4 separate regions of the Homo sapiens genome follow, and regions 1, 3 and 4 are each linked to region 2. The links come from fine-mapping of genetic effects on gene expression. A gene starts in region 2. Each other region holds a variant in brackets. All regions are shown on one strand. Distances are from middle to middle. Region 1 overlaps LOXL2 (lysyl oxidase like 2). Region 2 holds the start of LOXL2 (lysyl oxidase like 2). Region 3 overlaps ENTPD4 (ectonucleoside triphosphate diphosphohydrolase 4). Region 4 overlaps LOXL2 (lysyl oxidase like 2).

What was found. PIP is the estimated chance that this variant, and not a neighbour inherited with it, causes the effect.
Region 1: its variant is the best candidate, but not a certain one, in a credible set for the expression of LOXL2 in tibial artery (GTEx, PIP 0.71).
Region 3: its variant is the best candidate, but not a certain one, in a credible set for the expression of LOXL2 in blood mononuclear cells (TOPMed, PIP 0.83).
Region 4: its variant is the best candidate, but not a certain one, in a credible set for the expression of LOXL2 in esophagus muscle (GTEx, PIP 0.60).

What each region holds. Positions count from the first base shown.
Region 1 is chr8:23,298,485-23,306,183 of GRCh38, forward strand. LOXL2 (lysyl oxidase like 2) reads right to left here. Exons shown (of 14, transcript NM_002318.3): 11 at 4,798-4,913; 12 at 3,543-3,679; 13 at 352-463. Among named protein-coding and RNA genes, the nearest start is that of R3HCC1, 14 kb to the left of the region's middle. RefSeq lists enhancers at 3,097-3,597, 3,598-4,098. The variant G/A (reference allele first, on the strand shown) is at 4,436.
Region 2 is chr8:23,399,838-23,407,536 of GRCh38, forward strand. LOXL2 (lysyl oxidase like 2) reads right to left here and starts at 4,283. Exons shown (of 14, transcript NM_002318.3): 1 at 4,117-4,283.
Region 3 is chr8:23,422,138-23,429,836 of GRCh38, forward strand. It overlaps ENTPD4 (ectonucleoside triphosphate diphosphohydrolase 4), which reads right to left. Exons shown (of 13, transcript NM_004901.5): 13 at 7,025-7,699. Among named protein-coding and RNA genes, the nearest start is that of LOXL2, 22 kb to the left of the region's middle. RefSeq lists an enhancer at 85-585. The variant G/T (reference allele first, on the strand shown) is at 3,999.
Region 4 is chr8:23,310,897-23,318,595 of GRCh38, forward strand. LOXL2 (lysyl oxidase like 2) reads right to left here. Exons shown (of 14, transcript NM_002318.3): 9 at 6,053-6,218. Among named protein-coding and RNA genes, the nearest start is that of LOXL2-AS1, 21 kb to the right of the region's middle. The variant T/G (reference allele first, on the strand shown) is at 3,454.

The DNA.
Region 1 (7,699 bases), 100 kb before region 2:
CAGCTCTCGACAGAAAAACCTGATAGGCAGAGCCCACAGATTGCTGATGCCCACATTTTTGAGGTCACATACATAATGAGCCAGTGGCCTCAGCTCCAACCCTTAAAAAGCCTTGGGGTCTGCACTGGGCTGGCCTGGTCCTGTACCATCCTCTATCCGTGGCCGGAGCTGGCTGTAAAAACTCAGTCTCCATCCAGGCCTGTGTGTCTGTGGCTTCTGTCCTGAATGTGGAAATGTGATGCTGGCTGCATTCCCCGAGCTCTTTACCCAAATTAGGAAGCTGCCTCTGGGTCCTTGAGAAAGTAGGGCAGCTCCCGCCTGCTTCCTGGAGTGGGGGCGGCCTGGCCTTACCTATGTGGCAGTTGTACATCCAGATGCGGTGGCCGTCATAGCGGCTCCTGCATTTCATGATGTTGTTGGAGTAATCGGATTCTGCAACCTCGAAGTTGGGGTTAATAACAACCTAGGGAGAAGCAGGGCAGAGGAGGCTGCTTGTTCCCTCTGCGGCCACCTCCACCCAGGCCTGGGGCTCTGAGAGACCAGCACCTCAGGGAAGGGGAGCGTGGCAGGTGCCGGGACCCAAGACGGGGGTCTGTGGGTCTCAACAAAGTCCTTGGGGAGGGGAAGAGATGAGTCAGGGAGCAGAGGAAGCATGGCCTGGAAGAGGGAAACCCTGCCCTCTGTCCATATCCGTGTAACACACACCCCTCTACCCAGGGTGGGCCTTCGGAAGGGGGTCACCCACTCCTGGGAGTTCTGGGGAAGGCAGAAGTTGGGGTCTGGGGAGGCCCCAAAAAGAAGATGCTGAAGAGAAGCAGAAGGGTGCAGGGAGGACCTGGCGGTGTGGGAACCTGGAAGAGGGCTGCCTGGGCGTTGGAGATGGGACACTCGTCACAGGCGTGTGACTGTGGACATGTCCCTTCCTCTCTCTGTAAAGTGACAGGTGGGACTTGGGGATCCATGTCCCTGTCTGCTCTGCTGGCCGAGGGCCTGGCTCTGGGGCTGCTGGAGAAGTTGCACCCTCTCCCCATCCTTCCACCCACCCCTGTATCCGCATCCCCCCAGCTACAGCAGGAATAGGAAGGACATATTCTGGGAGAGTGTCTGTGAGGGAACAGAAAAGGGGAGGTTTACGGTGAGGACCCGAGGAGAAAAGAGAAAGGGAGGGAGAGGGAGAAGAGACAACAGTGGTGAACAGAGGGGCAGAGGACACAGATGACAGGCCTTCCCTCGAGGGTCCTGCCACATTTGGAAGGGCTGCGACCCACAGCAGGGGGGCGGGTACAGGCTGCTCGTTCAGGAACATTCTCTAAATTTGGGGCCCCAGAAGGGCCTGGACACGAACCTTTAGCAGGCCGCTGGGCTTGCCCAAAGAGGTGCTGTGGGAAGCCAAGGCCAGCCTGGCAGCCGGCCCTCTGCTCTGGCCCAGCGGGGCTGTTCTGGGGGCCTGCACCTGGCTCAGCTGTGTCCCGCTGGGGCCCTGTGCCTTTAGCTAAGGAGGTACATGCCCTGCTCCGGGGCGGCTTGAGTTTTTTCTTTTCCACCCAACCATTCTAGCTGCCCCCTCGTTCCTGGCCCACACATGGCATGGGGCAAACACAGCTCCACATGCCAAGGCCTCCAGCTGTGCAGGCCTAGGCAGCTCCTTGGCCGCCCAGGCGTCTCGACAGTGCAGCCGTGAGGGCGGCTGGATGCAGCAAGGGCTCGTGTTGGGGACACGAGGGCCAGTGTTACGTGTGGGGTGGAGGCGGGGCTGGAAATGTGTGTCCCCCACTGTTTCACCCCACTCATCTACTGCAGACCGACATCTCACGAGGGCCTGCGGGAAGTGGCTTTAGGTTTCTGTATGTCTGTGAATCTAGGAAATGATGAGAAAGCGGATAAAGCGGGGCCACCAGGAGCCAGGAGGCCCCTTCACCCCTGCCTCTGAGCTCTGCACAGGTCCCTCTGCGTGGACGGTCACTTCCTCCTCGCCCAGCTCCCTCCTCCTGTCCTTCACAGCACCACTGATGTCTGAAGTGAAGACCACCTCTTGTGTCCCGTGAGTCCCCAGGCCGGTGCTTGTGGCACCTAAAGAAGCTCCATGTCTATCTTAAGGGGAATGTTCTTTTTGATTAATCAGAGGTATTAACATGCCCCTAATGAGTCCATTTGCTAATTGTATTGTTTAGGGGTTGAGAAAACAAAATAAAGAGTTGATATGTCTGGGGTTGGGTGGCCGTGAAATGAGGGTAATGATGATGCCCCTTCCTTGGGAGATTAAATCAAACAATGCATTCCCCAGGCTTAGGCAATTGATAGTAGTTATTAAGTGGATGGCACTGGCCAGAATACAGGGAGATACACACTCACCCAGCAAAATGATAGCAAACCTCAAACAGAAACCACCAGGCACTGTATACGTGCACATGGCCACGGCTATTCATCTTTTAAAATAAATAACTCTCTGGTTAGGCCTCTCCAAGTCTGTGGTTCTGGGCTTGTGGGTGGAAAAGTGCTTGGCTGTCTGCTTTCCAGCCTCTGAAACTGCCCAGGAATTCTCTGAAAGCCCCTCTGTGGTGACTTCTCTGAAGGTGTTGTTTCTTCAGAGGACTGTCTGTAGGTGGGGACCGTGGGCCAGGCCCTGGGCTGGCTGAATGCCCCCTCAGGAAAGCTTTCAAGGTGGAATGACACATTTCTGGTCATCCACTTTGCTAGCCAACAGGGCAAGCTGGAAAACGAGATGGGTGAGGACGTAGGAGAGAGTGAGAGGGTGAGATAAAGCTTCTGCAGGCTACGTGTACCCGTGCACTGGGAGAGACACTAGGGACACAATGCCCCTTTTCTCCCCCAGTTAGAGCCCTGGCCAGAACATGCCGCTGTTTTCAGGAAGGAGGGAAGCCAAGGCCCCCTTGTTCCTCCTCAGGGCTGGCCTTCCACCCAGAGTATGTGGAAACAAATCTCGGCAACCCCTCTGACAAAGAAGTCACCTGGCCAGGCTGTGTCTCGTGTTCAGTATTTTATTCTTATAGATTCACTTTGCATTGAGAATGGCCCCTTCTGCAGATCCTCCTCTATGAGGCAGATATTTCCGGAAGAGCTAAGTCACAGATATTTGCAAGTGACTGGCTCTTTATGAGTTTGCTTTCAGTCTTGAAAGCACAGACCAAGGCAGCCTAGGGCACTAGGAGAAATGGGGATGGTGGAGACAAGAGCTCCATAGGAGACAAGAGGTGTGGGTTGCCTGAGCATGTATGGAATAAACTGGCCGGAGGAGCAAATCTAGCCTGCTGATGAGTTTTGATTTGCATGCACCAGGTGTTAACTCAATCAAATGTGAATGCCTGTGGTGTCTCTGGTCCTGTGCACGCCCTATTTCTCAGGCCCCCATGCCTGATATCTTTGGGTTAACTGATGGACCGTGATGGCCTCTGGGGGTAGCACCTTGCCCTTTAGACAGCCTGACTTCCATGCCCCTGTGTGGACACCAATGGGAAGGAGCCTGTGGAGGTGGCCTCCCCTCCTCCCCCTGCAGGGCTGGAACCCCTTCCCACCCACCTCACCTGGAACAGGTAGTCTCCAGGGGGCACGTCAGTGATGTCAACCCACTGGCAGTCGATGTCATGGCGGTACATGTCCCAGCAGCCCATGGTGATGCCCTGATCGCCGAAGTTGGCACACTCGTAATTCTTCTGGATGTCTGCGGGCAGGGTAGAGGAGAGCTCATCACCAGGGAACCATGGCCCCACTGCCGCACCCTCTTCCTGCTTCCAAGGCCCCTACCGCTGCTTCATCTGGGCTCGGCATCCCACCCCACTGTGTGGGCTGCTCATCTGTTCTCATTTCAGTAGAACCCCCCACTCAATTCCCTACCCACATCCTGCCTCTTCTCTCAGGCCAGGCTCAAGTTCCCCTTCCTCCATGAAGCCCTCCCTGACCACTCTGATCCACCCTGGCCTTTCTGTGACATCCTCAGCCTGGGGATAACTGCGTGTGTGTGGACCGAGGAAATCTCTGGTGCCTGTGGTTTAGCAAAACGTGGGGGGTCATACTGTCTGTCTCCTCTGGAGGATCGGCAATTAGAGTGTAGGCCCATGTCTCTCTGACACTTACATGTTATCTGCACATGGTAAGAGGTCAACACCTGTCTGCTGTGTGATTTCACGGCAAGTCAGTGGCGGGCCGCTTCAATGAATAACAAATTAAACACGCATTTACTGAGAAGCTGCCATGCCTGGACACTGCTGTAAACAGTGGGTCTAGCAAGAAGAACTGACATGTCTCCCCATGAAGAGCCCCCAGGGCTGCAGGTGCACTAACAGGTGATCACAGGGCAGGTGTGGTGACCTACCAGAAGTGTGAGCAGAGTGCCACACCTGCCGGGACGGGGGGGCGCTTCAGAGGAGGGCATTTGAGATATAATTGAAGGGTGACACCTGGTGTGGTAGGGACACTT[G/A]GCATTGGGACACCAGAAAAAAGGTTGGTGGCAGCCAGAGTGGGAGGGGCATACGCATCAGGGTCTAGGCTGCTAAGCCCAGATGGAGCAGGGTCCCCAGAGTCTGGATCTTGTCCAGGAGGCCCTGTGGACCGACCAGTGCCTGTCAGCACAGCTCTGGGGAATCCGGGTGCCCTTGGAACCAGGTCATGCCCATGCCCCCAGCGCCTCACTATAGCTGAGGAAGGTCCAGGTGGGGAAAGGTGGCAGTGGTCAGAGTGACACAGGGTCAGTGCCAGGCCTGGGCTCCAGCCAGGTGATCGTGGAGGCAGAGGCATTCGAGTCCCTCTGAGGCCTCCCATCCCCCCACTCCGCTCAGATACCTCCTTCACATTCTGTGTCCTCCAAGCAGAAGCTGGCCTTGTGGCCCTCTGCCACCTTGGTGCCATTGAGGTTCAGCAGGTCATAGTGGGTGAACACCTCCATGCTGTGGTAGTGCCTGGAGCGAGAGAGAGATGGCCTGGAGGTCAGTTTCTGGAGCAACTGCTGCTTGCAAGCAGAGGCCTGGCTGGCGATTTGCCTCTGGGAATACTTCCAGGGGACCAGAGGGGGCCGGGTGGGGAGAGGAGTGGATGAGAGGCCTGAGGAAAGGAAAGCCGGTGCTGCAGAGGCAGCTTCAGGGCTCTGGAGTCAGACCACTGCTCACCTTGCTAAGCCTCCGTCCTCTCCTCTGCTGAATGGGAATGATCATCGTAATGCATGGGGTGCTGTGGGTACCAGGGAGGTGAGCAGATTAGCCAGCACTGCATATGATAAGCACAGAACTCCAGCTATTGTTTTTAATAAGCGTGCAACTGGCTCTCACAGCCCCTTCCTGTTTGATGCACTTTCTTCAGGGTAATTAAAAAACTCCGCATTTTGACGTCTTTTGAAATGGAATATGGTAGGGAGAAAAACCAAAGGGTAAGAAGCATGATTAAGGGGGAGCAGCAGAAAGAACAGGAATAGTAAGGAATAGAACATGTGCCCTGCACAGGACACACACAGGTACCCCAAGGTCGTGCCTGTGCTTCAGACCTGGTCAGGAAGGGCCTGCAGCTTCGCCTCTGGCCCTGGGAGGTGAGCAGCAAGTCTGTGCTCCTCGCATTGTGCAAATAAAGCAGGGAGGAGCAGAAAGACAGCTGGGAGGCCCTCTGGGAGGGAGACACTGACTCATCCTCAGGGGCACACAGCAGCGGCAAAGGGAGGCACGTCCCCGGGGGTTCCAGAAAAGAGTTCTGCAGGAGAGCTTGTGCAAGCAGGCTGCAAATCCCTTGCCGCTGGTTTACATAACGAGGCTCCCTCTCTTCCCTCGGGAGGAATTGAGAACAGATGCAGAGTCTTGGAACACATGCGCTTGGTTTAGAATAGCCCTTGTTTCAGAATAAACAAGGGAAACGGGGCTGTCGCCTGTTGCTGCAGGGCCTTCCCGAAGCCTGCACTGCCCAGGCCCGGGGCTGAAGGAAGGAGGTTGTCTTAGCCCGATCCCAACCTGCAACGAGCATGTCACAAGTGTCTGCAACTATTCTATATGCTTGTCTCTGCCATTACAGGGACATTTGGAAAATGAGGGAAACTGAGGAACAAGGTGCCAAGTCATGGGAGCAGAGTCCCCTGTTTTGTTGCTGCAGGATCTGAGCTTCCTCTTCGGCAAAGAGGGGAGGGTGGCTTTGCCCGCTCTCGGGGCCGCAAGATTGAATAAGATGAACGGCGTCAAATAACTAATGCGAAGTGGTAGCACATTAGTCAGCACTTGACATACCTGTCCCCTTCCTCGTGACACTCCCATCATAGCAGTCACGGTGGCAGGATTTTTATTACATCCACTAACACTGCTGCTACAACGGCAGGCAGGAGCTCCTCACTTCCCCAGCCCCCTGCCCTTGGCCTCAGGTTCCCTCTGCTGTGTACGGGCAGTGGGGGCACGGGGAACGGGGAAGACAGCAATGAACAGGATAGGTTTCCTGCGAGGAAATTCGAGGCTCTTTTCCCTTCCTCCTGCATTTGCCTGTGCTAAAAATAATATCAGAAGTTGCTAAGTTGGGCTTCCCTCGGTCACTCATGTTTCTGGGTAAAATGACGCTAAGCCCGGGTTCCACTGAGAACATTCACAAGGAGGCATTTTGTGGCCGTGGAAGTGACGACTTTGAGAAAGTCTATTTTGGCTTCTTGAAGGAGCAAGAAGAGACATGAGGTCTGACTCACTGCCTAAAAAATGTCTGCATCGCTCAGAGAGGGGCTTATGTGACCATGTTTACCAGCTGGAAAGACTGAAGAGAAATAGGTTGATGCTCCGTTGTCTAAACAGAATTCAGACGGAGCGCACAGACAGACTCTTGTAAGGATGACCCCGTCCCACTGCTGGGCTTCCTGCAGACTTGATTTAAATCTTCCTCAGCTTCAGTTTTTCCCCTGCAAACACTCAGGGGAGCAGCTGGTTTCATGGCCTCCCAGTTTTCCCTGGCTTCTGTCCTGGGCATCTCGCTTTGCCTCTTAGGCGTATGCGGTCATCCCTCCCTAGGGCCACATCTCCTTCCCAGCTGCCTGGATTAGAGCCTAGAGCCCCCCCACACCCCCCGCCCACCAGCACTACCCACCCATTCCCCCCAGGAAATAGAGAGCAGGACTCTGGGAAGATGGGATGGTGAGTCCTGGCGAGGAAGGTATTCCTCCTCTTGCAGGCTGAGCTGTCGTGACCCTTGGGCATCTAGGAGGGGGCTGGATCCCTGGGGTAGAGTTAGGGAAGCATGGACTTGGAAGGAAAATCCAGAACGCTAAGGGGAGAGAGAGCCTGACACTTGGCGGAGGTCACTGTGATCTGGACAAAAGAAGACACAGCCTTCTACCGTGAGACTCCAGAGCTCAATGCTTTTTTGTTTTTGTTTTTTTTTTGAGATGGAGTCTTACTCCATCACCCAGGCTGGAGTGCAGTGGTATGATCTCGGCTCACTGCAACCTCTGTCTCCCGGGTTCAAGCAATTCTCCTGCCTCAGCCTCCCGAGTAGCTGGGACTACAGAGCACGCCACCATGCCTGGCAAATTTTTGTATTTTTAGTAAAGATGGGGTTTCACCATGTTGGCAAGGCTGGTCTTGAACTCCTGACCTCAAGTGATCCACTCGCCTCCGTCTCCCAAAGTGCTGTGATTACAGGTGTGAGCCACTGCGTCCATCCCAGAGCTCAGTGTTTTAAGACATGGCACTCGTCAAGGGAGGAGGTGTTGGATGCAAAACGGATGGCAGATAAA
Region 2 (7,699 bases):
GACAGCCTATTAGCTAAGGAAAAAGAATCTATGGCCGTCAGAAGGCAGGGTGATTTAAGGTTAATGTCTTGCCACTTCGGAGTTCCTCCCGTTGGATGGAATCGGGTTGACCAGTTTCTCTGCCTCTAACTGGCTATTTTATGGAAGGTCTGTTCATTCCCTGTTTCAAAGCAACAAGCGTAACAGCAGAACATCTAGGAGTCCTGTGCCAAGAGATTCCTTTTTCCCACATGATCTGCCAAGAAAGGAGAATTCCAACTTATGAGTCTCATTAACAAGGTGGAGAAATTTCTTCTTCGCTCCATTTCAAAAGCAAATAAACTTAAGTAATGAAAATGCTAAAAGCAGAAGGCTCTGGTGTTGTATTAGTCTGTTCTCATGCTGCTAATAAAGACATACCCGAGACTGGGTACTTTGTAAAGGGAGGAGGTTTAATGGACTCACAATGCCACATGGCTGGGGAGGCCTCACAATCATGGCAGAAGACAAAGGAAGAGCAAAGGAACATCTTACATGGTGGCAGGCAAGAGAGCATGTACAGGGGACTCCCATTTATAAAACCATATCTCACGAGATTTACTTCTCAGGGGAAAGATCTACCCCCATGATTCAATTACCTTTCATCGGGTCTTTCCTACAACACATGGGAATTATGACAGCTACAATTCACAATGAGATTTGGGTGGGGACACAGCCAAGCCATATCAGGTGTTGCATATCTTCATTGGTCAAATGCAGAATAAAGTCATGCATAAACTAAGGGCTTCAATGGGAAGCCTATATACCCCTACTTCTCTGTCATAGGATTTGAGGGCTTCAGCATGAAGGTACCAGCTGTCAGAGTACTCAGGTGATGCTCAGAGAGGGGAGATTGTCCTCTACTAGATTTCTTTCTGGGGCCTTTGTTTCTTCCAGGAATCCCAGCAACAGTCATTTCACTCATCCTATTTTTACACCTTGGAGTCAAATAATGAGGAAGTACACTGCTCTCTAGTTCAGAGAGGGCAGCTCTGAGCCCTTACAGTTTTGCAATGAGCTAGGAAACAAACCCTGGCTTCCTGATTTTGCAGTTCATTTATCTCAAGCACCAAATGTCCAATTACTAATATTTACACAGGGATTTCTGACAGCAGGTGTATAGGAAGTGATAAGCCCAGGATGAAGCCTGAGCCAAGAAGAACTCTTCAGAGAGCAGCTGAGAGTCCACGAGTAACATGGAGAACCAGAACCACCGAAGCCCAGCCATGAGGAGGCTGGGTTAGACCCTGGCTCCCTGGGTCACCAGCTGTGCCCTCTGGACAGCTTATCTGTTTATCCATTTCCTCAGCTGAGAAATGAATTTGAAAATACTCACCTAACTCTTTAGTGGGACCTTGTAAGAATCAAATGACATAGTGGACAGAAAAGTAGTTTGAAAGGAAGAACATAACAATAGGAATGTAACAAGTTACACAAATCAACAGAACTCAGATCAACTATAAAAAAAGACATTTTGAGGAAAATTGGGAAATGCTTAAATATAGACTGCTATTTGGCATTAGATGATACCAAATATTTTTTTTTTAGTTTTCTTAGGTCTAAATATGGCATCATAGTTATGTAAAATCTTTAGAAATCACACTGAAATATGTAGCAATGAAATGACATGATGTATAGGATTTGCTTTAAACTACTTCAATGACAGAAACAAAGGGACAGATGACGTACATGTGGCAAAATAACTGTTGAAATTCAGTGAGAAGCTTATGAGGCATCATTATACCCTTCTCTCTACTTTTTTTGCATACTTGAAATTTTTTGAGAATAAAAAATAAACAATGTAGTGTTTTCTGGGACTCAACACCTTCGCTGATGGTCATGTCTATCTAGAGCACAGAAAATCTGTTTCCTTCACAAAGCCCTTCCACACTGGCCATCTAGAGGTCAAAGGACAAGGACTTGGGAAGAGGCCAGGAGAGGCCAGTTGGAAAGAAAATAAAAGGAAGCATCTTTGCAGAATCTCCTATCTGTGATACTTAAAATGTCAGCCAATGTGTGGTGTTAAGTACGTTTTGTTTTCAGACCTGAGTTTCATACTCAACTTTGCCACTCAATGCCTAAGTGACCTTAGACTAAGTCACTTTCTAACACAAAGTTACAGGGAAGCAAATGCACATGCATGCACAAACACACATATACATATACACACGTGCACACATGCGTGCACACACATACACACAAGTGCACAAACGCGCACACACACATACACATGCAAACATGCACACAAACACAAATACACATATACACATACAGGTGTGCACACATGCACACAGGAATACATATGCACACACATTGCGTGCACACACACGTGCCCGCGCACACACACCTGTGTGCGCATATAAACACACACCGGTGCACACACATACACAAACACACTCGTGTGGAGACACACACATGCACACATACATGTGCCCACACATACACGTGCACACATGCATACACAAACGTGCGCGCGTGCACACACAGATTAGTGAGACTCAATTTCCTTGGGGAGAGCCTTGGTAGCCACTGGGGCCCATGGGGAGCACGCATCTTGTCATGGCTCTGGTGGCCATTCCAGGGCAGATACTAGGGACCAGGAAGAGGAACGGGACAAAGGTGAGGAGAAAGATTAAAAATTTAGTCAAGTTAGGATCCAGTGAGTCAGTCACTTATCTGGGAACTGACCAGGGAAATGAACTCTTCCTCTTCCACCCTAAACCCCAACCCTGACCATTAAGTACATGATACACCATCAATAACTAATTCATTCCACCAAAGATGACAAATGTTGTTTTGGGGTTCCAGGACGGACAGGCTAGCAGTGGTGTAGGGGAGGGGCCTGGAGTAAGAGGTATGGGTTTCAGTCCCCACATTGACTAACTCAGTGACCGTGAGCCTCAGCGTTTTTCTTCCTCTGGGAGAAAAAAAAAAAAAGTATTGTTTTTGAGATCTCTGCAGTTTCAAGATCTTAGGGACGAAACTAATTTGGAGCATGTTTCTGTCATGCACATCTCTCCCCTCATCAGGACTTGGGGTTTCCTAACCATATTGAGTAGTTCAGCCCCCTCCCTCGCCGTGTTCTGCGGTGTTCTCTTCCTCACACCCTCGCCCCGCTCCGCCCCGCACTCCGGCTGTTTTTTGATGGTCTTAGCTCGGGCACGGAGAGGAGGGAACCTCGCTTGTTCTCCCAATCATCTCTATTCCAGCGCTGATTCCTGGGACACCTCGAGCAGGCAGCCACACCCAGAGGGCTTCCAAATTTGGGCTGGTGAGAAGGGGCGCGGTGGGCAAAGCGCCTGCGTAAAAGTTGTAGGCACTTCAGACCACCGGACCAACGGCTCAAGATTGGGATCAGCTGTAGCCGTGGGTTCGCTCGTGCCCGTTCTTTCCAACTCCAGGGCTTCTAGGTGATGAAGGCGGGAGAGGGTCCCTGGTCCCCGGAGAGGCAGGGCGACTTGGGAGTGCATACCTGGCGTGCCGAGAGCGCCTCTGCTCCCGCAGGACTCACGGCGCTCCCGCGCTCCCAACAGCCTTTCGAGCAGGCTGGGGGTTGAACCGGGTTCAAGCAGTGGACGCTACAGCTCCCGGGCGCAGCCCCCGGGGTCCCCGCCCCCACTCCGTCCCAGCCCAGCACGCTCTACATCCCCAAAACCACAGCCCCGAGGGCAGTCACTGTCTCCCGACCCGTCCCCCGCGTGCCCCACTCCTCAAAGCCAGAATTCCGGAGACGCTGTCCCTGGAGCCACGCTGCACTCTCCAAGACGCCCAGCACACACCGAGACTTGACGGGCTCTGTCCCGCCTGATTACGGGCGCTCGGGACGATCCAGGGACCCAGCGCCTCGCTCCCCGGGCGCGCCAGCAGCCGCGCCGCGCCCGGCCCGTACGAGGTGGGGTTGGGCGGGGCCGCCCGGGGCGGCAGGAGGACCCGTTAGCCTGCACGTCCTCGCATCGCTCCCCGCAAGAAGTCTTTGGGAACCCCCAGGCACTGTCGAGAGGCAGCCCCGCGCAGGACGAAGCCTGGAGACCCCATAGGGACGCTCCCGCTTTCTCGCGAACCGCTTCGGGGAGGGGGTGGCGCGGGAAGCGCTCTTACTTGGTTTCAGGGATCCGCAGTGGCCGGGCTGGGACCGCGCTCTCCACGGTGGTCCCCCTCCGCTTCCGCCGCCGCTGAGCCCCTTTCTCGAGCAGAGGGGGCGGCTCTGGTCTCCGATGGCTGGAGAAAGCAAGCACCAAGCGTAGGTAGCCGCGCGCTGGAGTCGCGCGTTTACTCTTTTCCCCCTTACTTTTAACTAGAGGAGGATGGCAAACCCCTCCCCGGACCCACCCCCTTCCCCGAAGGCGGCCGCCGCAGCAGGCCCGGCCTCCGGCCTCTTTTGTTGTAATTCGAGAGCGGCCACTCCCAGGGCCAGAGGGAGCTCCGCGGGGGAGGCCAAGGCCTGCGGGGCAGCCCTTCCCAGGCTCCTCGCGCCCGGGTTTCCGGAGCCTGAGATGCCGGGAAGGGGGCCTTTCCTCGGGAGATTCCTCTACCCTTTCCTCCCTGCAGCCGTCCCAGAATTTAACCCTTCGATGTCCTTATCCACCAGCCTTAGGGCCCGTGCCTTGTCCACCTCCTATCCCGAAAACCCTGGCCCTCCTTGGCACATAATACACGCTCAATTAAAGCTGCCGAATGAAAGTGTTCAGAAACTTGCACCCATCTCGCCTGGGTTTCACCTCCCTTTTCCTGTAGGGGGAAAACCGATCCTGAACCAGTAAATAAACAGCCCCCTTTCGGCCAGCAGATCACGTCTATGGCCTTGGCCAAGCCTCTTCTCCGAGGACTAGTTTTCTTCTTTGTAAATTCAACGCTTTGGATTCCGTGACCTCTGGGGTCCTTCCTGGAATGGTAGGGCTGGGATTAACAAGCCCTGTGCTTGGGGACTGAACAGGACACAGCTAATGCGTGGCCATTGTGCAGAAGGACCTCCTGTGCCTGGCTCTGAGGCTCCGGGTGGGGGATGGGCATGCTGGGAGAGCCCTCTGCACAGAGAGGGCTCCTTAAGCAAGAGCAGGGCTTTGCCAGTCCCAAGGAGGCAGCGAGCTGCAAAACAAGGGACCCCTGTGCAGAAGTAGACTGTCACCTGAAAGGCGGCTCCTTCCTCAGTCCTCTCTTACTCCACTCCCTGAGGAGACAAACCCCTCCCAAATCTCACCTCCAGCCCAGGCTTCTCTCCTAAGCCATGGATATTTAAATCCATTGGCCCCGAAAGACTTTCACCTGGACATTCCCATGGCCGTAGCTAACCTGGCAAGCCCCAAACTTGGCACTGCAACTCACGGTCCACCTTGACTCCTGTGAGCTCTCCCAGGCAGATATGGGGTCTTCTCCGTTGCCTCCTCCTTACCCTCCCCACTGATCAGTCCCTGACTCTGGTGGGCAGTAGAGGGCAAGGGTCAGAGGAAGGGGGTGTAGTTATCAAAGGCAGGAGGAGGGATCTTTGTGGTGGTGGAACTATTCAGTGTCTTGAGATACAGAAAACCACACAGGTGATAAAATTGTATAGAACGTAATACACCCAATAAAATTTCAATTAAAAATTTAAAAAAATCCTCCGTGGCTCCAAGGTCCTCAAAATGTAATCTGAATCCTGGCTGGGTGCGGTGGCTCATGCCTGTAATCCCAGCACTTTGGGAGGCCGAGGCAGGCGGATCACAAGGTCAGGAGATCGAGACCATCCTGGCTAACATGGTGAAACCCCGTCTCTACTAAAAATACAAAAAATTAGCCGGGCGTGGTGGCGGGCGCCTGTAGTCCCAGCTACTCGGGAAGCTGAGGCAGGAGAATGGGGTGAACCCGGGAGGCGGAGCTTGCAGTGAGCCGAGATCCCGCCACTGCACTCCAGCCTCGGGGACAGAGCGAGACTCCGTCTCAGAAAAAGAAAAATGTAATCTGAATCCCTTGATTAAGCTGACAGGGCCTCTGGGGCATTTCCAGCCTGCCCAACTGCCAACCACATCTCACCTCTCCCCCTGGGCCTTACTTTCTGTGCTCCTATAAGCCTTCTATTTCACACCCCAGGACCTTTGAACGTGACATTCCCTTGGCTTCTCTGCACAGTAATGCCTGGTTATTGAGCTTTCACTCAGCTGTCACACCCTACACAGTGCCTGGACGTACCAGATGCTCAATAAATGCTGGTGAAACTGAGCTCTCCCCTTTCCCCATCTCCCATCCTTCCACTTCTAGTCCTACCCTCTCTTGCTAAAGCATTCACTAATAAGGTAGAAAATGAAAGGAGACCAACTTTGTAAATAATCTTTTGTCTGTTATAAAGAAAAGCAAACTTCTTGTGAAATATTCAGAAAATATGTAAAATGTAAGGAAGAAATTGTCACTCTGGTGTCTTATCACCCATAAACACCTACTGTTTGGAGTCTTTCCTTCAGAATATTTGTTCAACCAAATTGTAGTTACAGTTTTTGTATCCTGATTTTTTTTTTTTTTTTTTTTTGAGACAGACTCTAGCTCTGACTCCCAAGCTGGAGTTCAGTGGCGCAGTCTCGGCTCACTGCAACCTCCCCCTCCCAGGTTCAGCTTCCCAAGTCTGTCTCAGCCTCCCGAGTAGCTGGGATTACAGGCATGTGCCATCACGTGTGGCTAATTTTTGTATTTTTAGTAGAGACAGGGTTTCACCATGCTGGCCGGGCTGTCCTTGAACTCCTGGTTTCAAGTGATCCACCCACCTCTGCCTCCCAAAGTGCTGGGATTACAGACGTGAGCCACTTCACCTGGCCTCTGATTTTTTTTACTATATCATTTTGTGTTAATTTTTCAATGTAATTTTTAATGGTTTTAGACAGTTCTGGTCTGAAATTATTGTGCAATGGAGTCATTTCTCCATTATTGGATATTCAGTTGTTTACAGCTTTTTGCTAGTGTAAATTACGCCATGACAATTACCCCTGTGAAAGTAATATTTATTGATTGGGTACAGTGTGGTTCCTGCTAATTGTTACAGATGAGAAAGCCCTGGCTCAGAGAAGTGATTTTCCCAGCGTCACAGAGGCAGGGAATGGCCGAGCTGGGAGAACCAAAAGGAGCTTGACTCGTCCAGCAAGTATTAGTGGCCCACACTGGAGGCCTCAGTAAGTCCATCTCTGCCTTACCATGTCCTCACTTCCAAGAGGAAATGAGTAGAGTATCTGAAGTTTGCACTGAGTGTTTTATTGATGCCCTTTTGTTGAATTGAAATCAAGACCTAGGAGACTACTTCAGGACAACAGTAGACCCTTGTCCCAGATGAAACAAAATGATGGCGGGATGCCTTATGTCTGTAAGTCTGGATACACCTCCCACCCTGCCACCTCCACCACTCAGGTCCTGCACTGCTGCAGAGGCAGAGTCGTACAGTAGGTTCAGGGCATGCTTGTGCAGTCAGGGGGCCTGGGTTCAAATCTTGGCTCCACCATTAACTGATGTGAACTCCCTTTTCCTTCACATGCTTCATCTGTAAGAAGCGCCTCAAAATGCTCCTAAGAGGTTGAGTGGAGTGGCTTAAGCTTGTAATCTCAGCACTGTGGGAGGCCAAGGTGGGTGGGTTGCTTGAGTCCAGGAGTTTGAGACCAGCCTGGGCAACATGGCAAAACCCTGTCTCTACAAAAAATATAAAAATTAGCCAGGCGTGGTGGTATGGGCT
Region 3 (7,699 bases), 22 kb after region 2:
GGGATGTGACCAACGCAGCATTCCACTGGAGGCTATATGATCCAACAGCAAACTGTTTATCATGAATGCAGGATGTGAGAAAACTGACGACTGCTCCTGCCGACAGAAGGTTTGCTGGAGGCAATCACTCCCTGGCGCTGAGGTTATCTACTGCAACATTTAGCCTGTTGTTCGAGGAATGCAGTCTTGCAAGCCTGCTCTAGACTGAGCAGCTGACCCCTTCTTCCACCCCGCTTCTCACTATCTCTTTTGCCTAATAAATAAGGAGGGCTGTATAAAGCTCAGGGCCCTTGTCCACTAGGGGCAAGGTACCCCCTGACCCCTTCTTCAAAATATACTCTTTTGTCTCTTGTCTTTTATTCCCGTGTTTGCCCCGCTTTGTTCAGTCCCCCTAGGTCCGTGCAGGTTACAGTGGAATCCGTATTCACGTGCATATTCTGGCTCATTTCATACTACAGAAGCAGTGAGGTGAGTTTTGGACAGAAGTCATGTGGCCTGCAAAGTTAAAATGTTTATTATCTGGCCCTTTAGAGAAAAAAATTGCTGCCTGGTCTGAAGCGGCATTTTTCAAATGTGAGCATGCATTATGAGTGACCTGGAAGGCTGGCAAAATGAAGAATTTGATTCAAGAGGTCTGAGACCAAGCCTGAGATCCAGCACTTCCGTCAGGCTTCAGTGATGTTGATGCTGCTGATTCAAGGACCACACTTTGAGAAGCAAGTACCGAGAGCAGCTCCGTCTGACGGAAATATACTGTGAGCCACACAGGCAATTTAGAGTTGTCTAGTGTACACATTAAAAAGGTAGAAGGAAACAGGTGATGTTAATCCAATAATATTTTATTTAACTCAATATACCTAAAATATTGTCATGTCTCATGTACCCAATGTAAAGAAACTGAGATATTTCATATTTTTTTTACATGAAGTCTTTGAAATCTGGTGTGTCTATATCTATATATAGACAGACAGATATAGATATATATTTTTTTGAGACAGAGTCTCACTCTGTTGCCAGGCTGCAGTGCAGTGGGGAGATCTCAGCTTACTGCAACCTCTGCCTCCCGGGTTCAAGCGATTCTCCTGCCTCAGCCTCCCGAGTAGCTGGGACTACAGGCGCCCACCACCATGCCTGGCTAATTTTTGTATTTTTAGTACAGACGGGGTTTCACCATATTTGCCAGGATGGTCTCAATCTCCTGACCTCGTGATCCGCCCGCCTTGGCCTCCCAAAGTGCTGGGATTACAGGCATGAGCCACTGTGCCCGGCCTGAAATCTGGTGTATATTTTATACTTACAGCTCATCTCAGTTTAGATTGGCCTGTTTCATGTGGCTAGTGGCCGTCATACTGGACAGTGCAGCTCTAGAGTACAGAATGGAGCCAGGCTGCCTGCGTTCAAATCCCAGCCCCACCACTGGCTAGTTCGGTACCTTGGGCAAGTTGTGTGCCTTTTCCACATCTGTTTCTCCACCTGTAAAGTGACGGTAATCAAAGCACCTCCTCATGGTGTCATTTTGGGGACTGACATGGTTAGGCTTTGTGTCCCCACCCAAATCTCATCTTGAATTATAATCCCCACAATCCCCACATGTCAAGGGGGAGACCAGGTGGGGGTAATTGAATCATGAGAGTGGTTTCCCCTGTGCTGTTCTCGTGATAGTGTTCTCAGGAGATCTGATGGTTTTATAAGTGTTTGGTAGTTCCTTCTGCATTAATTCTCTCTCCTGCCACCTGCCAAGGTGTCTTGGTTCCCCCTCTTCACCTTCCGCCGTGATTGTAAGTTTCCTGACGCCTCCCCAGCCATGCTGATCTGTGAGTCAATTAAACCTCTTTCCTTTATCAATTACCCCGTCTTGGGAAGTTCTTTATAGCAGTGTGAAAACGAACTAATACAGGGATTATGTAAGCTAACAAAGAGCTAGAACAGTGCCTGGCGTGTAATAAGCTATCTTTCTGTTATGATGACGGTTCTGCACAAGAAGCACCTTCTTTCCCTCTAATAAAGCAAGGAGGTGGTGCCATCTTTCCTGCCCCCATCCCTGGGGCCAGACTGTGGAGTTTAGCATGCTCTCTCAGTTCTCAGCCTGGTCATTCCCCCTCGCTTTAAGGATCCTGCCTTGTTCATTCATTCCACAGATATTTATTGAATGTCTACCGCCTATCAGATCCTGTGCCTGGGGATACAACATGAAAACACACAGACAAAAGCCCCCTGCCCCCTGGCTCATGTTCTAGTAGGGTAATAGGGAGAGTCGTACATAGAACGTAATGAAAACAGAGTGTACTAGATCTAAGGTCATAAGCATCATGGGGGAAAGTGAAGCAGGGTGAGGGGGATGGAAAGTCCTGAGAGGGCCCTGAGGCCAGGGTGGCTGGAGCGGAGTCTCGGAGAAATGAGGACTGCGGTCAGAGAGGTGTGGAGTGGGAGGCCACGGTGCAGGGCTGTCTAGGCCATTATAAAGACTTCAGTTCTTCCTGAGTCAAATACAGAGCCGAGTGGAGAGCTTTTGCCTAACAACTTCAAGGTCTGAATCACAGCTTATCAGGCTGCCGTGCTGAAAACAGCCTGGGTTGGGTTGGGGTGGGGTAACCAATCAACCTCCCTGGCCCTGAATTGAGGGGCTCACTGGGATGTGAGGTCACCCTAAAACAAGGAAATCAGTTTTATCTTTTCTCCTCCTTTCATAAATAATCTGTGTCCCCATAACGTCCATTTTAATGTATTTGAATCAAAATATGCACATCCTCATAGGACATACAGTGCCGTATGCCCTACATTAACATAATGGCATTATACAACAATTCTCATGTCTTGCTTTCAGTATTCAACACTATTTTTAAGAGCCACCCGCTTGCTGTTCATAGTTCTAGGTCTGTCTCTCATGGCTATACAGTATTCCATGGTACGCACCTGCCGCCTTTGACTTGTCCAAGACCTTGCTTGCCTCCATCAACACAGTCACTCAGAATCATTACCAAGGAATCCTTCCGTAAGTCCATTCATGGACCCAGGTAGAAATCTCTCCGGAGAGCCACGCGCAAGTGGCTCTCTGAATCAAAGGGCACACACGCTGCTAACTTTTAAGCTGCCAGCTTCCCTTCTGGGGTACGCATTGCAGTTTGCACCACCACCAGCAATATTGAAGTCCAGGCCCCGCATCACTGCCAGCACTTGAAGTCTGGCAATTCTGAGGGGCATAAGGTAGTGGGTCTTAATTTACATTTGCATTTCTTCAGCTTAGTTTATCTCTTGTTCACCATTTGGGTTTCCCCTGCTGTGAATCACCTATTAATATCCATGGCCGGTTTTTTCTTTTGGATTTCCTTTTTCTTGTTGTTTTGCATGAAACTTTGTACATTTTAATCCCTTTTCAATTTCAGTCACTGCAAATACCTTCTTAGTCTGCCATCTGTTAGCTTTGATGAACAGAAAGTCTTACTTTAGATGTAGTCAAATCCATCCTTTCCCCCTTACATTTGGTGCTTCTTGTGAGGTTTAAAAAGTGACTTTTAAGGACAACTTAGAATGAAAAACAATCTGAAGCTATGTTTAGAATAAAATAAATATGCAGGAATTATTTTCTGTAAGCAGGGCTTCAGAAAATATCAATCTCACTTTGCCTCTATTATTACTACCTAATTCTGGGATTTCTTTTTCCTTTCTGTCAAGGCTGAACAGGTTGCGAAAAAAGGAAACCACTTGAGGTAAACTTGGTTTTCCTAAGTTTTTCTAAATAAAGCTTTAAAATGCAACACTCCCTTAACAAACTCTGGTGGAGGGAAGTGAACAGAGAACTGAGACTCAGAGGCCTGGGTTCCATCCCGCCCTTCACGGCACATTGCATATGGTTTTAAAACCACACACAACTCTGCACATCTGGAAAGAACAGCAAAAATTGAGAATAAAATATATATATATTTTAGACAGAGTCTTGCTCTGTCGCCTAGACTGGAGTGCAGTAGCACAATCTTGGCTCACTGCAAACTCCGCCTCCT[G/T]GGTTCAAGTGATTCTCCTGCCTCAGCCTCCTGAGTAGCTGGGACTACAGGCGCCCGCCACCTTGCCCAGCTAATTTTTGTATTTTTAGTAGAGACAGGGTTTCACTATGTTGGCCAGGCTGGTCTCAAACTCCTGACCTCGTGATCCGCCTGCCTTGGCCTCTCAAAGTGCTGGGATTACAGGCGTAAGCCACTGCACCCGGCCTAGAATAGATTTTAAAAGATTTCTTTCATAAATTTTAGAAACCTAAAGAGGTGATTTGTGAAAGAAACCAGATTTTCATTAGTTTACAAATATTTACAAAATACTATGTACTACTCGGTGTCTTCTTTACTGGATTATAAATGTAGAAACATGGAAAGTAAACACAGGACCTGTCATGGTCCATGTTCAAGGACATTTGGGCCAGAAATAGATACACTGATGGAAAACAGGGCCACGGGAGGTGGGAGAGAATTTAAACGTGTAATTTGAACATTAAACAGCCAGGAACTTCCAGAAAATTCTCTTGTGCTGCCATGACCAGTATCAAAGAACTTTACAAGGCTGAGGAGAGCCCACCAAATGTTTTAAGTGTTTTGAGTCTAAAATCTGGGTATTAAAGCTTGGGCCAAGTGGGAGAAAAAGCAATCTTAGGAAAAGAAAGTGCTAAGTCTGGTCCCTGGAGTTTAAGGCTTGTGTAATGACAGGCAAGAATAAGGTGATTAGGCCCGGTGCGGTGACTCACGCCTGTAATCCTAGCACTTTGGGAGGCCGAGGCAGGTGGATCACGAGGTCAGGAGATCGAGACCATCCTGGCTAACACGGTGAAACCCCGTCTCTATTAAAAATACAAAAAATTAGCTGGGTGTGGTGGCAGGCGCCTGTAGTCCCAGCTACTAGGGAGGCTGAGGCAGGAGAATGGCGTGAACCCGGGAGGCGGAGCTTGCAGTGAGCCGAGATCGCGCCACTGCACTCCAGCCTGGGCGACAGAGTGAGACTCCGTCTCAAAAAAAAAAAAAAAAAAAAAAAAAGATGATTAATATTTTCAGAACTGTCCACTTCAAACTCTGATTCTCATGAAGGCAAAAAGGGTGAAAGGTAGTATTCACACTCCCAATTAGAAGCCTGAGAGAACAGCAAGAACAGCTGGCACAAGGATGTTGTAGAAATAACACAAGAGAAGACCCACACTGGGGATTCTAAAGCTGCTCCTTTGTGTTTCGATGGCGTTGCCACCGACAAACCTTTCCCCTTCCAGTCACACAGGGGCCACTGGAATCCCAATCCCTTGACAAAACACCAGATGCCTGAGATGTTTATTTGATGACTGGTTGAACGGGAGGAAAAAAACTCCTTTTCTCTCGTCTTTGGAGTTCACCTACTTAAACAAGAAGTCTGTCTTTTGTGCCTGTCACCATCGTGTTCTGTGAGGAGGTTTCAGTCCTTTACTCAAGGCAGAAATCCTTCTTAAGCCTTGATTTTCTTGTTTGGGCCTCTTACATGAAACAGACACAGGCTGTTGACAGAAATGTTGAAGTGGCCATGAAGTCTGGAGCCCGGATGTCGTTCACCTGCCAAACAGTGTCAAGGGTGAAAGGCAAAGATCGAAGGCCAAAGTGCCCCTAGCGTCCCCTGCAGCAGGTCTCAGTCAACCTTAATAGATCTATTAATAGAAAGAGGCTGGACTGCGCAAGGGCAGGGGGACTAGCCTGGCTAAAAGCAAAATAAAACACATCAACAGACACACTCTTCTTTTGTTAGGAGGAGGTGGGATCACAGGCCCACATGCTCCCAGACGAGGTGGGGCCAGGAAGACTCTCACAGGATTGCCTTTCATGCTGCCACGGATGGATGCTCCAGGCAGATCCACTCTGCCAAGGCGTGCTTTGGGATTAGCCGGGCACTCCTTTGTCTTTTCATGACGTTTCCAAAAGAAGACACTGTGACTCTGACAGAGGTGACCTGCACCTCACGACCCCCTCTGTGCAAACCATTAGCATTTCCGGATCTCAAAAAAACCAAAAAAACCCACAGGGCACATGCCAATTCATAGGACAAATGGAAACAGACTGAAAACAAAAACACAGAACCATGGCTTTTCAGACCTGTCAACATGGTTAGTGTTGGAAATAGGCACTGACTTCTCTTCCACCAAGTGGAATAAAAATTTAGATGTCTTTTAACATCTTAGATATTTTAACGTATTTAAAGTCAGGCAAAAAGCCCTATAGTCATTGCACTGCCTCAAAAATTATTTACGACAGTTCTATCTTAATGCTGTGTCCTGTTTTCCTAGCGATCAATGGCTTGAGGACCTCCCTTGAGCTCACTTTGCTGGCTCTGTTCTCTCATTTTGTTTTTGCGCTTCCCTCTCCTCTCCGGCATGTCTCAGGCCTTTATTTTTGTTGGTCCTAACAGCTGGTCCCCTTCCCTTCCCATCTGTCTCTATCATCTATTTTCAGGTTATGGCTCAGGCCCACCTTCCTGCTCCAGGAGAACATCTATGTATTCTCCAACGGCTGAGAAACATGCTGAGCGTCTAATGTCATCCTCCATATTGGTAACACGTAACATTAATAATGACAGTCATAATTTTCTGGAAGTAAGCCAAAGGTTCTAAGCTTAGATCGAACTGCAAAACAGTGTAACATAAAGTCAGCATTTGCTGTTACTATTAAATACATAAAAATTGGTTAATTTTATTACTTTTCCTTGTCTATATACAAGTAGGTACTTAAAATGGTGACCTTATAAACAGTCATCTCAGAGTGGCAATTATTGTTGGTGAATGGCTTAACGTCGTGGGTTGGTCACTACTTGTGAAATATCTGCTTTCTGAGCTGCAGAGAGTGTGGACGCCCTCTCCACAACCCCACACAATTGTGCTTCACTGTATGCACACCCAACACAACACATGCAAAGAGTGTGCGTCAGACTCAGACAATGTATTTCACTGAATTTGGACTCAAGTTCAACTCATCATTCTAATGAGTAAGAAGATTCAAAGATGACAAGGAAGCAAGCCCACACAGTCTACGGGCCATGGGATGATGAACTTTCGTTTTATTGATTTTTCAGTACCCAAGTGTGGCACTGTAAGGCTGCCACATACAGCAAGTGACATGACACCAAAAGGACCTTCCGAGAGTATTATTCTTACTTTGGATGGAAGACATCGCTTAAACAAAAAACATTTAAAGATGCTCCCTTGCTTTTTATAATTCCTAACTGTAAAATATAATTTTAGTACAGAACAAACAAATTCTCCTTGGTTGGTCACATCATTCATTATTGAAAGGGAAACTTAGTATCAAAAGAAACAAAACACTGAAATAAATAACTAAGTAATTTACTGAAAGGTAGTTTTGTTGCATTGCACACAACTGACCGCAGAGAATTCTAAAGCTGATTTTTTTCTTAAAGGATGAAAAACTCATTTGCCATTTTTAGTTTCTTGCTAAGTGATACATGCTCCTTATAAGGAAAACTACTCTGTGTAGGCCTGAGTTTAAAATGTAAATATCTGTTTATCCAGAGTTTGTTAATCTAGAGTACACAGATGTGGAAAACTGGTGGTGAAAAGAGGGACCTACCCAGCCTTCAGGGTGGCTGGGCAGGGGCCCCATGTTACTGGCCTCAGCCACCAGCAGCGTCTTCACTCCGCCCAGGTCAGAAAGCACTGCCTAAAGCCGGAGCTTAGGATGAACATGGGCAAAAA
Region 4 (7,699 bases), 89 kb before region 2:
GCTTCTTTGCAAAAGGATTAACTGTAGGCTTTACCTTTAAAAGTGAGCTTTCAGTGAACACTTCTAGTACACAGAAAAATGCCATATATGAATCAGTGATCACAAGATCCTGCCATCTTTTATTTTGACAAGTTGCTTGTAAATTTTTTTCCCCCTAGACTGCTTTGCAGAATTGCTTATAAATTTTAAGCAAGCAGAGTCTGTGAGTTTTGCTTCCCTCAAGTTCACCAGCACGTGGAGTGAGCTCTGTCTCCCTTCTCCCCCTCCCCCTCCAGGCTTACAGGCTGCAGCAGAGTCCAGCGGGTTCTCAGTAAACCCTGTGAGTTCACTGGCACCTGATGGAGCTGGCATCCTCTAGAGAGCAGATCCACTCGCAAGAATTGGGTGTGGAACCAAAGGGTAGGGAAAAGGTGCACACAGATGGCACATGGGGTGGGGCACGGAAGCCGTAAATCAGGAGGCTCCCGTTTACTGACAAGTATTTCTTCTTGGAGGCTACGCCAGGATGCAGCATTGCCCTACACCGAGTGTTCTGGGCACGCTTATTTTTATGAGGGTGTCATGTGAGCCTCTTATTAGTTGACAGCCCCTCTGAATACCTCTGAGCTGAGCATGGAGGTCTCCACTTGGGCTCTCCCGCCAGCTCGCAAGGCGAGGGATCGTTAATGTACCATGGTTTGTGCTTAGCTGGTAGCCTGAGATGTGCAATCTCAACAGCTGCCATGGGTTGGGGACTTGGCCTCCCCTGCATCCAGCAGGCAGCAGAACTCCTAGGTGGCATCCTCCCACCTACCCATGGCTCGAGTATTACGATGCTCTGTGCTAGGTTCTCTGGACAGAGCTGAGCAAGGCAGAGGTGGAACTACCCTAGACTAACAAGAGACAGACATATTCAGCACATAATAATTACTACTGCAACAAGAGCTGGCAGGAGATATGATGGGAATTGTAACGGGAGGAACCTGTCGGGTAGGTGGTCAGGAGGCTGCTTTGGGAGAAGTTGTGTTTTAGTTTTTCTCTGAAGGAGGAGTGGGGATTCGAGGAAGTAACACTAAGGATGAGGCTAGGGCAAAACAAATAGCCTGTGCCGAAATACAAACTACCATCAGAGAATACTACAAACACCTCTACACAAATAAACTAGAAATCTAGAAGAAATGGATAAATTCCTCGACACATACACCGTCCCAAGACTAAACCAAGAAGAAGCTGAATCTCTGAATAGACCAATAACAGGATCTGAAATTGTGGCAATAATCAATAGCTTACCAACCAAAAAGAGTCCAGGACCAGATGGATTCACAGCCGAATTCTACCAGAGGTATAAGGAGGAACTGGTACCATTCCTTCTGAAACTATTCCAATCAATAGAAAAAGAGGGAATCCTCCCTAACTCATTTTATGAGGCCAGCATCATCCTGATACCAAAGCTGGGCAGAGACACAACCAAAAAAGAGAATTTTAGACCAATATCCTTGAGGAACATTGATGCAAAAATCCTCAATAAAATACTGGCAAACCGAATCCAGCAGCACATCAAAAAGCTTATCCACCATGATCAAGTGGGCTTCATCCCTGGGATGCAAGGCTGGTTCAATATACGCAAATCAATAAACGTAATCCAGCATATAAACAGAACCAAAGATGAAAACCACATGATTATCTCAATAGATGCAGAAAAGGCCTTTGACAAAATTCAACAACCCTTCATGCTAAAAACTCTCAATAAATTAGGTATTGATGGGACGTATTTCAAAATAATAAGAGCTATCTATGACAAACCCACAGCCAATATCATACTGAATGGGCAAAAACTGGAAGCATTCCCTTTGAAAACTGGCACATGACAGGGATGCCCTCTCTCACCACTCCTATTCAACATAGTGTTGGAAGTTCTGGCCAGGGCAATTAGGCAGGAGAAGGAAATAAAGGGTATTCAATTAGGAAAAGAGGAAGTCAAATTGTCCCTGTTTGCAGACTACATGATTGTATATCTAGAAAACCCCATTGTCTCAGCCCAAAATCTCCTTAAGCTGATAAGCAACTTCAGCAAAGTCTCAGGATACAAAATCAATGTACAAAAATCACAAGCATTCTTATACACCAACAAGAGACGAACAGAGAGCCAAATCATGAGTGAACTCCCATTCACAATTGCTTCAAAGAGAATAAAATACCTAGGAATCCAACTTACAAGGGATGTGAAGGACCTCTTCAAGGAGAACTACAAACCACTGCTCAACAAAATAAAAGAGGACACAAATGGAAGAACATTCCATGCTCATGGATAGGAAGAATCAGTATCGTGAAAATGGCCATACTGCCCAAGGTAATTTACAGATTCAATGCCATCCCCATCAAGCTACCAATGACTTTCTTCACAGAATTGGAAAAAACTACTTTAAAGTTCATGTGGAGCCAAAAAAGAGCCCGCATCACCAAGTCAATCGTAAGCCAAAAGAACAAAGCTGGAGGCATCACACTACCTGACTTCAAACTACACTACAAGGCTACAGTAACCAAAACAGCATGGTACTGGTACCAAAACAGAGATATAGATCAATGGAACAGAACAGAGCCCTCAGAAATAACGCTGCATATCTACAACTATCTGATCTTTGACAAACCTGAGAAAAACAAGCAATGGGGAAAGGATTCCCTATTTAATAAATGGTGCTGAGAAAACTGGCTAGCCATATGTAGAAAGCTGAAACTGGATCCCTTCCTCACACCTTCTACAAAAATCAATTCAAGATGGATTAAAGACTTAAACATTAGACCTAAAACCATAAAAACCCTAGAAGAAAACCTAGGCATTACCATTCAGGACATAGGCATGGGCAAGGACTTCATGTCTAAAACACCAAAAGCAATGGCAACAAAAGCCTAAATTGACAAATGGGATCTAATTAAACTAAAGAGCTCTGCACAGCAAAAGAAACTACCATCAGAGTGAACAGGCAACCTACAAAATGGGAGAAAATTTTGGCAACCTACTCATCTGACAAAGGGCTAATATCCAGAATCTACAATGAACTCAAACAAATTTACAAGAAAAAAACAACCCCATCAAAAAGTGGGCGAAGGATATGAACAGACACTTCTCAAAAGAAGACATTTATGCAGCCAAAAAACACATGAAAAAATGCTCACCATCACTGGCCATCAGAGAAATGCAAATCAAAACCACAATGAGATACCATCTCACACCAGTTAGAATGGCAATCATTCAAAAGTCAGGGAACAACAGGTGCTGGAGAGGATGTAGAGAGATAGGAACACTTTTACACTGTTGGTGGGACTGTAAACTAGTTCAACCATTGTGGAAGTCAGTGTGGCGATTCCTCAGGGATCTAGAACTAGAAATACCATTTGACCCAGCCATCCCATTACTGGGTATATACCCAAAGGACTATAAATCATGCTGCTATAAAGACACATGCACACGTATGT[T/G]TATTGCGGTACTATTCACGATAGCAAAGACTTGGAACCAACCCAAATGTCCAACAATGATAGACTGGATTAAGAAAATGTGGCACATATACACCATGGAATACTATGCAGCCATAAAAAATGATAAGTTCATGTCCTTTGTAGGGACATGGATGAAATTGGAAATCATCATTCTCAGTAAACTATCGCAAGAACAAAAAACCAAACACCGCATATTCTCACTCATAGGTGGGAACTGAACAATGAGAACACACGGACACAGGAAGGGGAACATCACACTCTGGGGACTGTTGTGGGGTGCGGGGAGAGGGGAGGGATAGCACTGGGAGATATACCTAATGCTAGATGACGAGTTAGTGGGTGCAGCGCACCAGCATGGCACATGTATACATATGTAAATAACCTGCACATTGTGCACATGTACCTTAAAACTTAAAGTATAATAATAATAAATACATAAATACATAAATAAAACGAAAAAAGAAAAAAATAAAAATAAAAATAAAAAAGGAGAAAAACAACAACAAAAAACAAGTAGCCTGTGCCAGGCCCCTGCGGCACCACGGAGGGTCAAAGCCAGTGTGGTGCAGTCACTGAGGATGGGAGGGGGTGGCCAGCGAGGAGGCTGGACAACACAAGCCCCGTGCGAGCCCCTGGTCACGGAAGTGCAGTGGGACCCTTGGGTGGGATTTAAGTGGGACGTGGCCTTGGCTCTGGCTTTGGGGAGGGGAGAGGAGGGGAAGCCACCGCAGGGCCACGTATCACTGTAGGGATCTCCTTTGCAGTGATGCTGTGTGGTCATCTGGACACAGGCAGCAACAGTGGCAGGGAAAGACATACAGAAGGTTGAGAAAATACTGAAAGGTAAAAATCAAGAGGGACTGGACATGGGGGTGGTGGGGAAGAGGGAGAATCAAGGAGGTTGTGTAGATTTCTAGCATATGCAGTTGGTGGGGTGAGAATAAGATATTATGAAGGGTTGCCTGAAGAATTACTTTATTTCCCTGAATACTCTAACGTGCATTTAGCCAGAGCAGCCAAGAGCTGTGTTCCTGGCCCCAAAGCCTACTGCCCCGCTGCAGACACACTCCCAGTGATGCTTCAGCCTAAGCTGTGGAGCATTCTGAGAAATCGCCCCATGAAACTCATTTTTGGATCTCCCATGAGGATCTGACGGCATGGCTCATCTCATAAATCTCAGTCCTCAGAGAGAAATTCCCTTTAATCTCTAGAGTGGTGGGCTTCTCTTGACTCACAGCCATATTTCTATCTCACAGGTACTGTTAGTTATATTAATGACCAGTATTCTCTTTGCTCTGGCTGCTAGGAAGCTCACTGTGAAATGAATGACCTACTCATAATAAATGCATAGAACCCCCTAGTACACATTTGTAAAATTAACCCCTCCCTGGCTCCATTTTAAGCCACTACCATTTTGCCAGCACCTGTCTATCTTTCATCTGTTTTTATTTTATGCTATCTTGAATTGTATTTAGGTTTGTATTATCTTCATTTCCTTCTGGAAAAGATGGGATATTGCAAATATAAATAAATTGATAAATAAAGAAAAGGCCCCCGACAGGGAAGTGGCTGTTCCTCTTTGCTGGGATGCTTTCCCCCGGGGAGCTGGTAAGATGGTGATCTCGCCATCTCTCCTCTCACAAGGATGTGATAGCTTGTGATGTCTGCCCAGCGAAGCCTGCCCTGAGGTCCTGCTTTGCAAGGGCTAGGAGATGCTAGTGAGTCTAAAAGGGGTTGGTGGGAGACGCAGCTGCTGTTCAATCCCGCGTTCTCCGTGATGGCAGGATGACAGTGCATCTTTGTTTATGAAGCCCTTGCACATATTAATTGTCACACTTGATTTCTAATTTCTAAGGAAAACTACAACTAAAGACCACAGAGGCTGACACGCTTTTCCAAGATCAGCCAATAAGGCAGGGTCTGGTCTCAAGTTCTCTGGCCAGCACCTGGGCCTCCCAATGGAGATGGCTGCGTGTGGGTTTATATTACAAGGCCAGGAAAGGGAGGGCTGGGTTTGGGCTCAGGAGGGCAGCATTCCAAAAGGTTGTCTACTGCTCCTCTTCTCTCAGCATGGGAGGGAGGCTTCAGGAAGTGGGTCATCCTGAATCCTGGCTGGCATTCCCTTCTGTGGGCTCAATCTCTCTAGGACTCCCAGCGAACTACCGGGCAGCTAAGTGACCTCCAGGGTCTGAAAACAGGAAATGCTCTACAGAGGAGGTGGAGGGAGGAAGCCAACACCCATGGAAGATGTCATCGACCTCATTTAACTGGCATGACGGAGGCACTCTCAGTCATGTAGTCTGCCCTGGGTCACTGCAGTAGCAGTGGTCCTGTGACTGAATCCGGGCTACAGACTGCAGCCCCTCCCTCCCGCTTTTCTCCCCACTACATCATAGACAGCGATCTGTGGTTGGGGTGGCGGTCATCTCTCTTGCCCCCAGTTTTTCTCCCTTAGGATTTCATTCTACCTTCCTCTATTGCTTGGCTCATGGCAAGGCTTCAGAGTCTCTTGAGGAATAACTGGTGGGACTCTGGTCCCCTTGGGAGCCCGGTGGGGAGGGAGGGGAGGAGCTCTCACTTTCTGAGCAGGCAACTCCGGCCCCGTACTGCACTCCGCCCTGGGGGCAGGCCACGTCCTCCCCGTCGTGGCGGCAGTGCGCCAGGGACAGCTCCGTTCCCGAGCACTTCACTCCACTCATGACCACTTTGTTGCTGTTGACATCTCCGTGCCAATACCAGGTCTCCTGGAAGAACCAACAAAACAAATGGTGGGTACATCATCTCAAACTGTCACTTTCTCATATCCTATCAACTTGCAGCCTCACAAAAATCCCAATGTTTCATGATCCCATTTTTCAGATCGAAACAGCACGGAGGGTCACCTATCCAAGCTGTGCAGTTAGTTGGTGGCAGAGTGAGTGGGAATCCAGGTCTCCTGAGTGTAGCACTTGGACTCTGTCACTCTCTCCCTCAGGGAAGTAGAGCTAAGGTTGTGGTCAGACACTGCAAGGCTGTGTGTCAGGAATGGCAGGTGCACACAACTCAGGTTGCCCACTCCCCAGTCCTGATCCAGGGCAGACATTGCTAATCAATCACAGCACTCTCTCCTCTAAGCCCGAATAGGATCTCAGAATCCTTCTCAACACAGTGCTCCAGGAAGATGTTACTGGTTGATTGGAAGTGGTGGGAGAGAAGAAGAAATCTATTTGCATAGGTCAATCATTAGACATGTTATAAAGACGAACTTCTGAATTTAGACTTTTCCCCAGTTTAAAGAGCAATTAATAGAGTAGTTCTGCACAGAAGCTGAGGAGATCCGAGGCTTAGGATGCTGGGATTTATTTGGCCCCTTTGCTCTATGGGCCTTCGAAATACTGTTAGGATTTACTCTCACACTTCAGAGAAGTTTCCAGCAGAGAAAAATGAGGAGCAGAATTGGGATCGTCAGGTACAGAAACGGGATGAGAACACAGGTGCTGTGTTCCTCAGGTCTCTCGGGCTTGGAGGCTGAGGCAGGATTAGAGCTCAGGGAGGTCTTCTCGGGATCGTCAGAGACAGACCATCAGGATAGGAAGGGCCTTGGAAGTATTAGTATCTCATCTAAACTCTCCTGTGATGGTTCATTTTACGTGTCAACTTGGCTAAGCCACAGTACCCAGATATTTGGTCAAACACTATTCTAGATGCTTACGTGAGGCTGTTTTTAGATGAGATTAACATTTTAATCAGTAGACTTTGAGTAAGGCAGATTACCCTCCATAATATGGGCAATTCTTATCCAATCGGTTGAGGATCTTAAGGGGTAAAAAAAAAAAAAACCCAAAAAACCTGAGGCCTCCCAAGGAAGAAGCCATTCTGACCACAGACTGACTTCAGACTCTAGCTGCAACATCAATGCTTCCAGCCGGCTGGTCTACTCTGCAGACTTCAGACCTGCCAGCCCCATAATTGGATGAGCCAATTCCTTAAAAGAAATATCTTTCTTCATGCTGTGTGTGTGAGAGATATACATACACATATATAAACACACATTCATACATCCTATTGGTTGATAGCACACACACACACACACACACACACACACACACACAAAAATACACATTCATACAACCTACTGGTTTTGTTTCTCTAGAGAACTTGACCAATACCCACCTCCATCCTCCAGATGAAAAAAATGAGGACTTGAGAAGGGATGGGGCTTGTAATCAGTGGCAGATTTGGTACA